Regions from separate parts of the Homo sapiens genome. Here region 2 is linked to region 1. Evidence: fine-mapped expression QTL. Tissue or cell type: whole blood. Region 1 holds a variant in brackets; the other region holds the start of a gene. All regions are shown on one strand. Distances are between the middles of the regions.

What was found. PIP is the estimated chance that this variant, and not a neighbour inherited with it, causes the effect. A credible set is the group of variants that fine-mapping cannot tell apart.
Region 2: DOC2B starts here. The variant in region 1 is the best candidate, but not a certain one, in a credible set for the expression of DOC2B in whole blood (TOPMed, PIP 0.87).

Annotation. Positions count from the first base shown.
Region 1 is chr17:205,148-209,383 of GRCh38, forward strand. No RefSeq gene overlaps it. Among named protein-coding and RNA genes, the nearest start is that of LINC02091, 20 kb to the left of the region's middle. The variant C/A (reference allele first, on the strand shown) is at 2,220.
Region 2 is chr17:179,479-183,714 of GRCh38, forward strand. DOC2B (double C2 domain beta) reads right to left here and starts at 2,172. Exons shown (of 9, transcript NM_003585.5): 1 at 1,629-2,172. The coding sequence starts at 2,001. RefSeq lists enhancers at 528-1,094, 2,556-3,057.

The DNA.
Region 1 (4,236 bases):
TGGTGGAGACTGGGGGCACCTCGTCGGGGGCTCCTAAGGATCTCTGAGCTCCTGCCTCCTCCTCCTCCTGCCTGCCTGCTCTCCTCGGTACTGTGGGGTGAGGAGAGGCACACTCTGCTTTGCTTTCTGCACAAGACAGCCCCGGGGTGGGGCCGGGCGCTGCGGGTCAGAGCCCTGACCGTTTGCAGAGGAAAGGAAAGGGACAGGAAACTGGAGCATCAAGGCCCTGCTTTGCAGGGGACACCAGGACTTAGCCATGGCAGGGGCTCTGCCAATGCTCTTCACACATGGCCTGGCGAGGTCCTTCTCCTCACATACTCCGGGCAATGCCAGTGCCAGGTTTTCCTTTGGTCTCATCCCTCCCCTGTGCAGAAGAGCATTTGCTGGCACTTGGATGAGCAATTTAAAGGCACTGGTCCTCCACATATATTTGAGACAGGGTCTTGCTCTGTCAATCAGGCTGGAGTGCAGTGGCACAGTCACAGCTCAGTGCAGCCTCAAACTCTTGGGCTCAAGTGATCCTCCCTTCTCAGCCTCCTGTGTAGCTGGTACTACAGGCATGCACCACCACGTCTGGCTATTTTTTTTTTTTTTTAATTTTTGTGGAGATGGCATCTCTCCATATTGCCCAGGCTGGTCTCGAACTCCTGGGCTCAGGTGATACTCCTGCCTTGGCCTCCCAAAGTCCTGGGATTACAGGCATGAGCCATTGCACCTGGCCTCCTACGTATTCTGTAAACAGGTGAACCTTTCTGTGTTTGTACATACTAGTGTATGCACACGTGTGTGTGCGTCTGTGTGCCGTCCATCTCCCCTGGCGAGGGCCCCTTCTGCCTAGTACCTCCAACAGCTGGACCCTCCAGCTGGTCACCTTATGTAGGAGGCTTCTCTCCCCCATGGGCGGAGTGCAGGGCAGGGTGGCCTGGGGTGGAGGCTGCAGGCAGGCCAGTTCCCCATCCAGCCTCAGCCTCCTTCCTGCTGGGGAACCAATCATAGGGGAGGAAACTGAGCTTTTTCCTTACAGCCACCTCAGGCTCATTGGCTGGGCCCCCTGTTAAAAAAAAAAATACAAAAAAGGGGGGGGCAGATTAACCAGAGAAAAGTCTGAGCATGTATTTAGCATGTGTTACGTCACACGGAAGCTCCATGAAGAAGTGAACACCTGAAGGCACCACAGAACCCGAGTGTTTCTTACGGCAGGCAGCTCGATGGGGAAACGTGATTGGGTGAGTGTTTCTTACGGCAGCTGGAGGAAGGTAGAAGGTGGCGGGGAAACGTTATTGGACGAATGTTTCCTACGGCAGCTCGATGGGGAAACGTGATTGGGCGAGTGTTTCTTATGGCACCTCGATGGGGAAACGTGATTGGGTGAGTGTTTCTTACGGCACCTCGATGGGGAAACGTGATTGGACGAATGTTTCCTACGGCAGCTCGATGAGGAAACGTGATTGGGCGAGTGTTTCTCACGGCACCTCGATGGGGAAACATGATTGGGCGAGTGTTTCTTACGGCAGCTCGATGGGGAAACGTGATTGGGTGAGTGTTTCTTATGGCAGCTCGATGGGGAAACGTGATTGGGCGAGTGTTTCTTATGGCACCTCAATGGGGAAACGTGATTGGGCGAGTGTTTCTTACGGCACCTTGATGGGGAAACATGATTGGGCGAGTGTTTCTTACGGCAGCTCGATGGGGAAACGTGATTGGGTGAGTGTTTCTTACGGCAGCTCCATGGGGAAACGTGATTGGGCGAGTGTTTCTTACAGCACCTCGATGGGGAAACGTGATTGGGTGAGTGTTTCTTACGGCAGCTCCATGGGGAAACGTGATTAGACGAATATTTCCTACGGAAGCTCGATGAGGAAACGTGATTGGGCGAGTGTTTCTTATGGCACCTCGATGGGGAAACATGATTGGGCGAGTGTTTCTTACGGCAGCTCGAGGAAGGTAGAAGGTGGTGGGGAAACGTGATTGGGCGAAGAGAACAAGGTCAGTGGAGTGAGCGGGGACCTGAGCCAGGCATGTCGTTCCAACCCCGCTCCATGGTCTCGCGATAAGATGCTCCTTTCCTCCAGGTACCAGCAGAAAGCAGGCGTTTTCTCATGTGGGAAAGATGCCGGCCCCCGCTGTTTGGGGTGGAAATCCTCTAACCCGCTGGGCCTGTGCGCCAGGGCTGAGCAACAGCGCGGAGCCGTGCATCTGTCGGGGGCGGGACGCGGCAG[C/A]AGGGCTGTGAGGGCTGCGTTTTCTCTGCCAGCCTGATCCGCATCCCCTGCCCCTCGGTCGTCTGCCAGTGTCCGTGTATCTTTTGCCCCAGCTGGTGCGGGTTTAGGGATGTCAGCCCCAGGAGTCACAGGTGAGCTGGTTCCAATGGGAACCTCGGCATCACCTGGGAACTGAAATATGCATTGTCAGCCCCACGGCAGACCTCTGAATCAGAAACTCCGAGGTAGGATTAGTGTGTTCTGTGTTCTAACAAGTCCCTTGGGTGGTTCAGATGCAGCAGGAGGACGGGGCCATGTCCGTTTTGTCCACTACCAAACCCAGGGCCTAGAACACTGCACCTGCACCAGCATCTGCCCGATTAATGCTCGACAGAGGAATGAATGTGGATAAGCACCATTATTCCAAAGCCCCAAAGGGAGAAGCATGAAGGTTTACTGTGCCCCGGGTACCAGGCTGCCACCCTTCTCACGTTCTTATGGCATCTTGACCACTCCTGAGGCACGTGCCTCACTGAATTCTACGGGAGAAACAGCTGGTAGCTGTTGACATACTGGTCACGGTGGTGGGAGCTGTACTGGGGCCCTCATGTTTTAAATTTCCAGTCATCCTGGGACGGAAGTGTTATCCCCATTTCACAGATGAGAAACAGAGGCACAGAGAAGCACCCATACTTTCAGGCACTAAGTAGCAGATCTGGGATTTGAAACCAGGGTCCAAAGTTCATGAGCTCTCCACTTGCGGCCTCTTCTAGGAACCACTTGGGTTATCTGGTATTTGGGACAAATCCAGTCCCTTCCGTATGCCCTGATTTTTACGGATGTCACAGAACACCTTCCACCTTCTACCAGGAAAGGCTCAGTTCTGAAAGCTAACTTGTAAGTTGGTTGCTTGGGACTAAGAAAGCAGTTTCATAAAGAAAGGATTTCTTGGTTCCCAGACCAGCCCACAAAGAACCCTTGACTCCAAGGCAGCCGCAGGCTCCCGTGAGGGATCTGCAGCCCACCTCAGCTCTGAAGCTGACACTTCCACGATGACGTCGTCTTAATGAATGCCTTCTAGGAAATGCATTTGGAATCCACCCTGGGGCTGCAGGGACTGGGTCTGGCCCAGTCATGGGGTTCTGGTGGGGGCTGAGTGTGGGGGCTCATCTGCATCAGGTCTGAGAGGGCTTTGGTCCTACAGAGGCGTGGGTAGCGCACCTGCAGCTTAGAACTGCGGGCAGAGGCCCGAGCCACTCCCAGGCTGGTGTTCCCAGGTCGGGTGTGGACCTAGGGACTGTGGGGCAGCCCACAGGCTGTCTTTTCTCTGCCAGGCAGGTGTTTACTCACTCATCTGCTATGGCCCTGGGCTCACTGCCGCCGCCCCCCGCCCTGTGGGTTTGTCAGCAGTTTGATGTGTATTTTTCCATAAAAATTCATTGTTATACATGAAATATAGTAGGTTTTAAAAGGGTAACTGTCCTACAAAGTTTATAACATAAAGCAGGAATCCCCTGCTCACCTCGAGACACCTTAGAACTCTTTTAGTTCCTTGGTATCTAAAACCTCATGCGGATTCTATGTCTTGATTTTGTAATTTTATACAGCATTATGTACTATAAAATATCACGATGTAGCTCTCACTTACGATCTCCCTGAGACACATATGCTTCTTGTATATCCTTGTGCACCTCCTCTGTCCTCATCTGGGCTGGCTGGACCAGCCACCCAGCTCCACCATCACCCTGAGGATTCTCTCCTGTGTGAGGGCTCCAGTTTCTTGTGCCCATTTTCTCTTGGTTTTCTCCCTTGTTTGGTTGGAGCACATCCTACAGTAGCTGCCCGAGAAAGAGGGCAAGGGAGGTGATATTTTTCAAGAACTCACATGTCTGAACATATCTTCATTCTAACTTCACACTGCACGAAGTTCTAGCTGGATAGAAAAGTCAACTTAGAAATTGTTTGCCCTCAGAATTCAGAAGCTCTTGCTTCTCTGTGCTCGGACTTCAAAATTTGCTTTGAGAATTTCAGCGCCATT
Region 2 (4,236 bases), 26 kb before region 1:
TCTGCCCTCCCCTCTTACTTCCTTGGTGCAGCAGCAGAGATGCCAGAAATGGGAACAACTTTCCCATCCGTTCTTCTGGGGGAGGCTTTGGATTCAGGGCAGCCAAAGCAGTTACTTGGGTCCCACTCAGGGCCCACCCAGGGGATCACCAAGTCCAGGGTGAGCTTCGCACAGGGTGCCAGGGGCAGAGGGGAGGGGGGGTGGATCTAGGGCACAGCCCTGAGGGCAAAAAACTCTTCCGACCCAATCTCCCCAAGCTGGCAGGAAAGTGGAGGGACAAGACTGCTCCCCAGCCCCCACGCCCCAGGGCAGGGCCTTCATGTGCCAGGCGCTGGCCCGAGGGCCGTGGTCCAGGCCTCTAGAAAGTGCAAAGCAGGCAGTTTCCCCTACAGGGGCCCTGCTCTAACCGGCCACTGCTGATGGGCCTCCCCAGGTGGGGCGATGGGGGGTCTGTGCCCCGGGGGCACTGGTAATCCCTACCTTCAGCTTCTGGTGGCACATTTGATGCTTGGGAAACTCCAGGCCCGCAGCCCACAGGCCCTGGTGAGTGCCCAGGCCAGGCGCAGACATCCCTGCTGCGCAGGGGAGGGGCAGCACCAGCCCTGGAGAAGGGCCACATCCCGGGAAGGGCTGGGGTTTGACGAGACGCTGGTTTTCCAGGTCTCAGTGACAAGTCTGGAGCCACAGCTGAGCTAGGAGGGGGTTCTCACATGCCATCCCCACCCCGCGCAAACCGACTCCTCACTGGACTGCGACCTCTTCCGGCCTCGGTTTCCCAGCCAGTCCCGGCTCGGGCCGGACAGGCACCCTCGGGGACGGGAAAAGGCGCCAGGAGCGCCCACCGGCCGGGCCTCGGTCCCGGGACTCCGGCGCTTGCCTGCTCCCGGGGGCTCAGGGCTCAGTCCGGGAGGAGGGGGAGCGGGCTGGGGGGCCCTCTCTGCCCGGGGGCCGCGGGCGTAACAGGTGGGCGAAGGTGCGCGGCCCTGGCGAGGGCTGCGGCGGGGTCCATGGACACCGGAGGAGGAAACGCCAAGGTTTTTCCAAAGGACAAGCGGCCCCGCGGTCCTCCTGGTCCTCTGCTCGCGCGCCAGCAAAGCAGCTGCGCTCTGCGGGCCGCCGGGACCACGCGGGAGGCCGGGCCGCTCCCAGCCTCGGGCCCCTCCCCAGCTCGCCCCAGCCCCGACCCTCGGCCGCGAGGCCCTCCCGGAGCGGCTGGCGAGCGGGGAGCGACCGCGCGGCCGGCAGCAACTGGTGTCTCCCCGGGACGCAGCTCCGCCCTTCCCGGGAACAAAAGCAGCCGCCCGCGCCGGAGCTCCGGGAGGGCGGGCTGGCAGGGAGGGGGCGCGGCGCCGGCTCCGAGGAACCCGGCCCCGGAAATGGGACACCCCCAGGGGGTGCCCCCGAACTTCCCTCCTGTCCGGCCTGGGTCGGGGGAGGGCTCGAGGCCGGTGGGCAGGGCGCGGAGAGCGCACCGAGTGCGCCAGGGGCCCGCAAGCCCGCGGCGGGGTTGTGAACCGAGGCAGAGCGCGAGCGCGCGAGGGGGACCGGCGGAGGGAAGCCGCGAGGCCGTGGGGGGGCCGAGCCCGAGCCAGGGGAGGGGGCGCGAAGTCGGCGCGTGGGAAACTTACTGCAGTCGTCCGACTCGTAGCCGTCGGCGTCCGGCTCGTCCTCCGGCGGCTTGGCTGGCGGCCGCGCGGGGCTGGGACCCGGGCTGGGGCCCGGGCTGGAGCCGTAGGCTCCGAAGAGCTGGTCCACATCCTCGTCGTCCTCGCGGGCGCCGTCGGAGGGGCTGCGGCGGCCGGCACCGGCCACAGCCGGGCGCGCGGGGGCGTCCGGGGGTGCAGCGGCTCGGGGCCCGGCGTCCGGGGGCAGGCCCCGCGGGAAGCGGGGGAAGTAGTCGGAGATCTGCTTGATGGGACGGATGGGGCCGGGGCACACGTCGATGGCCATATGCTCCTGGATGCTGATGGTCGCCTTCTCCCCGCGCCGCCGGAGGGTCATGCAGGCAGCGCCGCCCCGCCCCGGGCGCGGCCCGGCCCGGCGCGACCCCGGCCCGGGGGCGGCTCAGCAGGCCCGGCGGGGCGCGGCGGGGGCTGCGGGCATCGCCGGCCGCGCCCCCGGACGGCCCTGACTTGGCCGCTGCCCGCTCCGCTGCGGACGGCGCGAGCGAGTGCCAGAGGCCGGCAGGCAGGGGGCGGGCCCAGCCCGCGTCACCCGGCAGCAACCAAGCAGGGTGAGTGTGCGGGCTGCGCGGGCGGCGCGGAGCGGAGGGAGCCGCGCGGCGCCACACTCACTCGCACTCGCACTCACACCGGCGTGCACGCCGGCCCGGGACCCCGCGCGCGCACACTCGCGGCCAGGCAGGGCCGCCGGGCGCCTTCCGCTCATGCACGCCCGCGGCACAAGCTGGGAGTCAACCCGGCAGGGACCCGCAGGACGCGCACCCACACGTTCCCGCGCGTGCCAGCCCACGCTGGGCTCCGCTCGCTCTCTCGGGACACACGCAGGTGTGCAAGTGCACACATGCGTGTGCAGAGACACGTGGTGGAAGCATCCGCTCGCTCACACCGTAGGTCACACACGCAAACGTCTGCATGCGCACATGGTTGTTTTAGGAAGCTGTGACACAGTACACCCCCAATGCACAGGCGCGCACACCTGATGGAGCACACACACAGGTGATCAAGGGCACCCAGGGCACAGGCTTCCCTACCCCCAAGCACCCCTAACAAGATGCACAAACATGAGCCCATAGAAGTGATCAGGGGACCCTGGGCACAACTCCTTCTCTCCTCCCCCTCTAGCAGGACGTGGAGTCACACTCCTAGCATGTAGGGACAGGTTGCCTACACACGGGCAGGACATGTACACGCTCAACTGCACAAGGACACCGGGGCTCAGTCTGTGCACACATATTCTCAGGTCACATACAACACAGCACTCTAACCTCGGGTCAGTCCCTCACTTGGTCAGTGAGTACAGTCTGAAGGACCCCCCGGGGCAGGGTGGCTGAGAACCTGCACAGGGCCTGGTCAGGAGGGAGTGAGGGCAGGGCCTGGGCGGTGAGTGATGCAATAAGGCTGGGCGGCACGCTCCCCCCACCCCCACTCCTACTCTAGGCCTCCCACACGGTCAGATCACTAAACAAATCCCAGAGGGCCCAGCCCTGGCTGTCCGGCTTTCCGGGACCAGAGCTCTGTTGGGAACTGCTGCTGCTTGGACAGGTGTGTTCCCGGAAAGCCCTGGGCATGGATGGAATCCTGTTTACCCTCTGGTTTCCACTGATGTGTAAGACACTTAGCTTCTTAGTGGGTGCCTTTGGTGCATCTGAATGAGGGGCTCCAAGCCTCTCTTGTTCCCCCACCATAACCCCTGCAGAGTGATGGGGAGCAGAGGAAAGAGAGGCAAAGCCTTGGCCTGTGGCTTCCAGCTGCACAGTTCTGGCAGGCTATTTGACCTCTTTGAGCCTCGGTTTCCTCATCTATGAAGTGAGGCTATTTCCAACTGCACAGCCTTGTGGCAAGGCCCCATCCAGCACAGACAGGTAAGAGGTGCTCAGCTGGCTTTCCCTTCTCCCTTCCTTTGGAAAGACAAGACTCATGGTGAGAAGTGATGAGAAATTCATGTTTTGTGGTGAGTTCTGAACTGGGTGGTGGCGGGCACTACCGGCCTTTGAAAACACTGGAGAAACACATGGCATATGTTGTACTGCGCCAAGAACATTCACAGCTGTCATCTCATTGATTCCTTAAACCACCCCACGATGTAGGCAGGGCCTGCTGTTCCCATTTCACAGGGGAGGAAATTAGCGCTCAGGCACAAGGATGTGTCCAGGGTGACTGCTGGCTGGCGGCAGAGCTGCGATGAGAGCCCAGTGTCCTGACTGTTCGATGCTTCCACTTTCCCTCCCTTCTCCCTTTCCTCCCCTCCACTACAGAGCTCAGGGGCTCAGAGCAGAGTTGGAAACACAGGTAAAACCTCGTTCCCAAAGCTCATCCTGAGGCTTCTTGGACAGGGGAAGCCCAAACTGAGGAGGAGGGGAAGGAGGGAAAAAAAGGAGGAGGAAGAGGAGGACGGGAGGAGGCCAAGAGCCTCAGGGGTTACAGTGGGAATGAACCAGCCGGGGTTCCCTAAAGATAGTCTGAGGTCCTGGTGGGAGAAATATTCAGCCTTCCAAGAGCCAAAGGCCAAGGAAAGGACAGAAGAGCCTGGAAGGGCAGCCTGGCACAGAGGGGT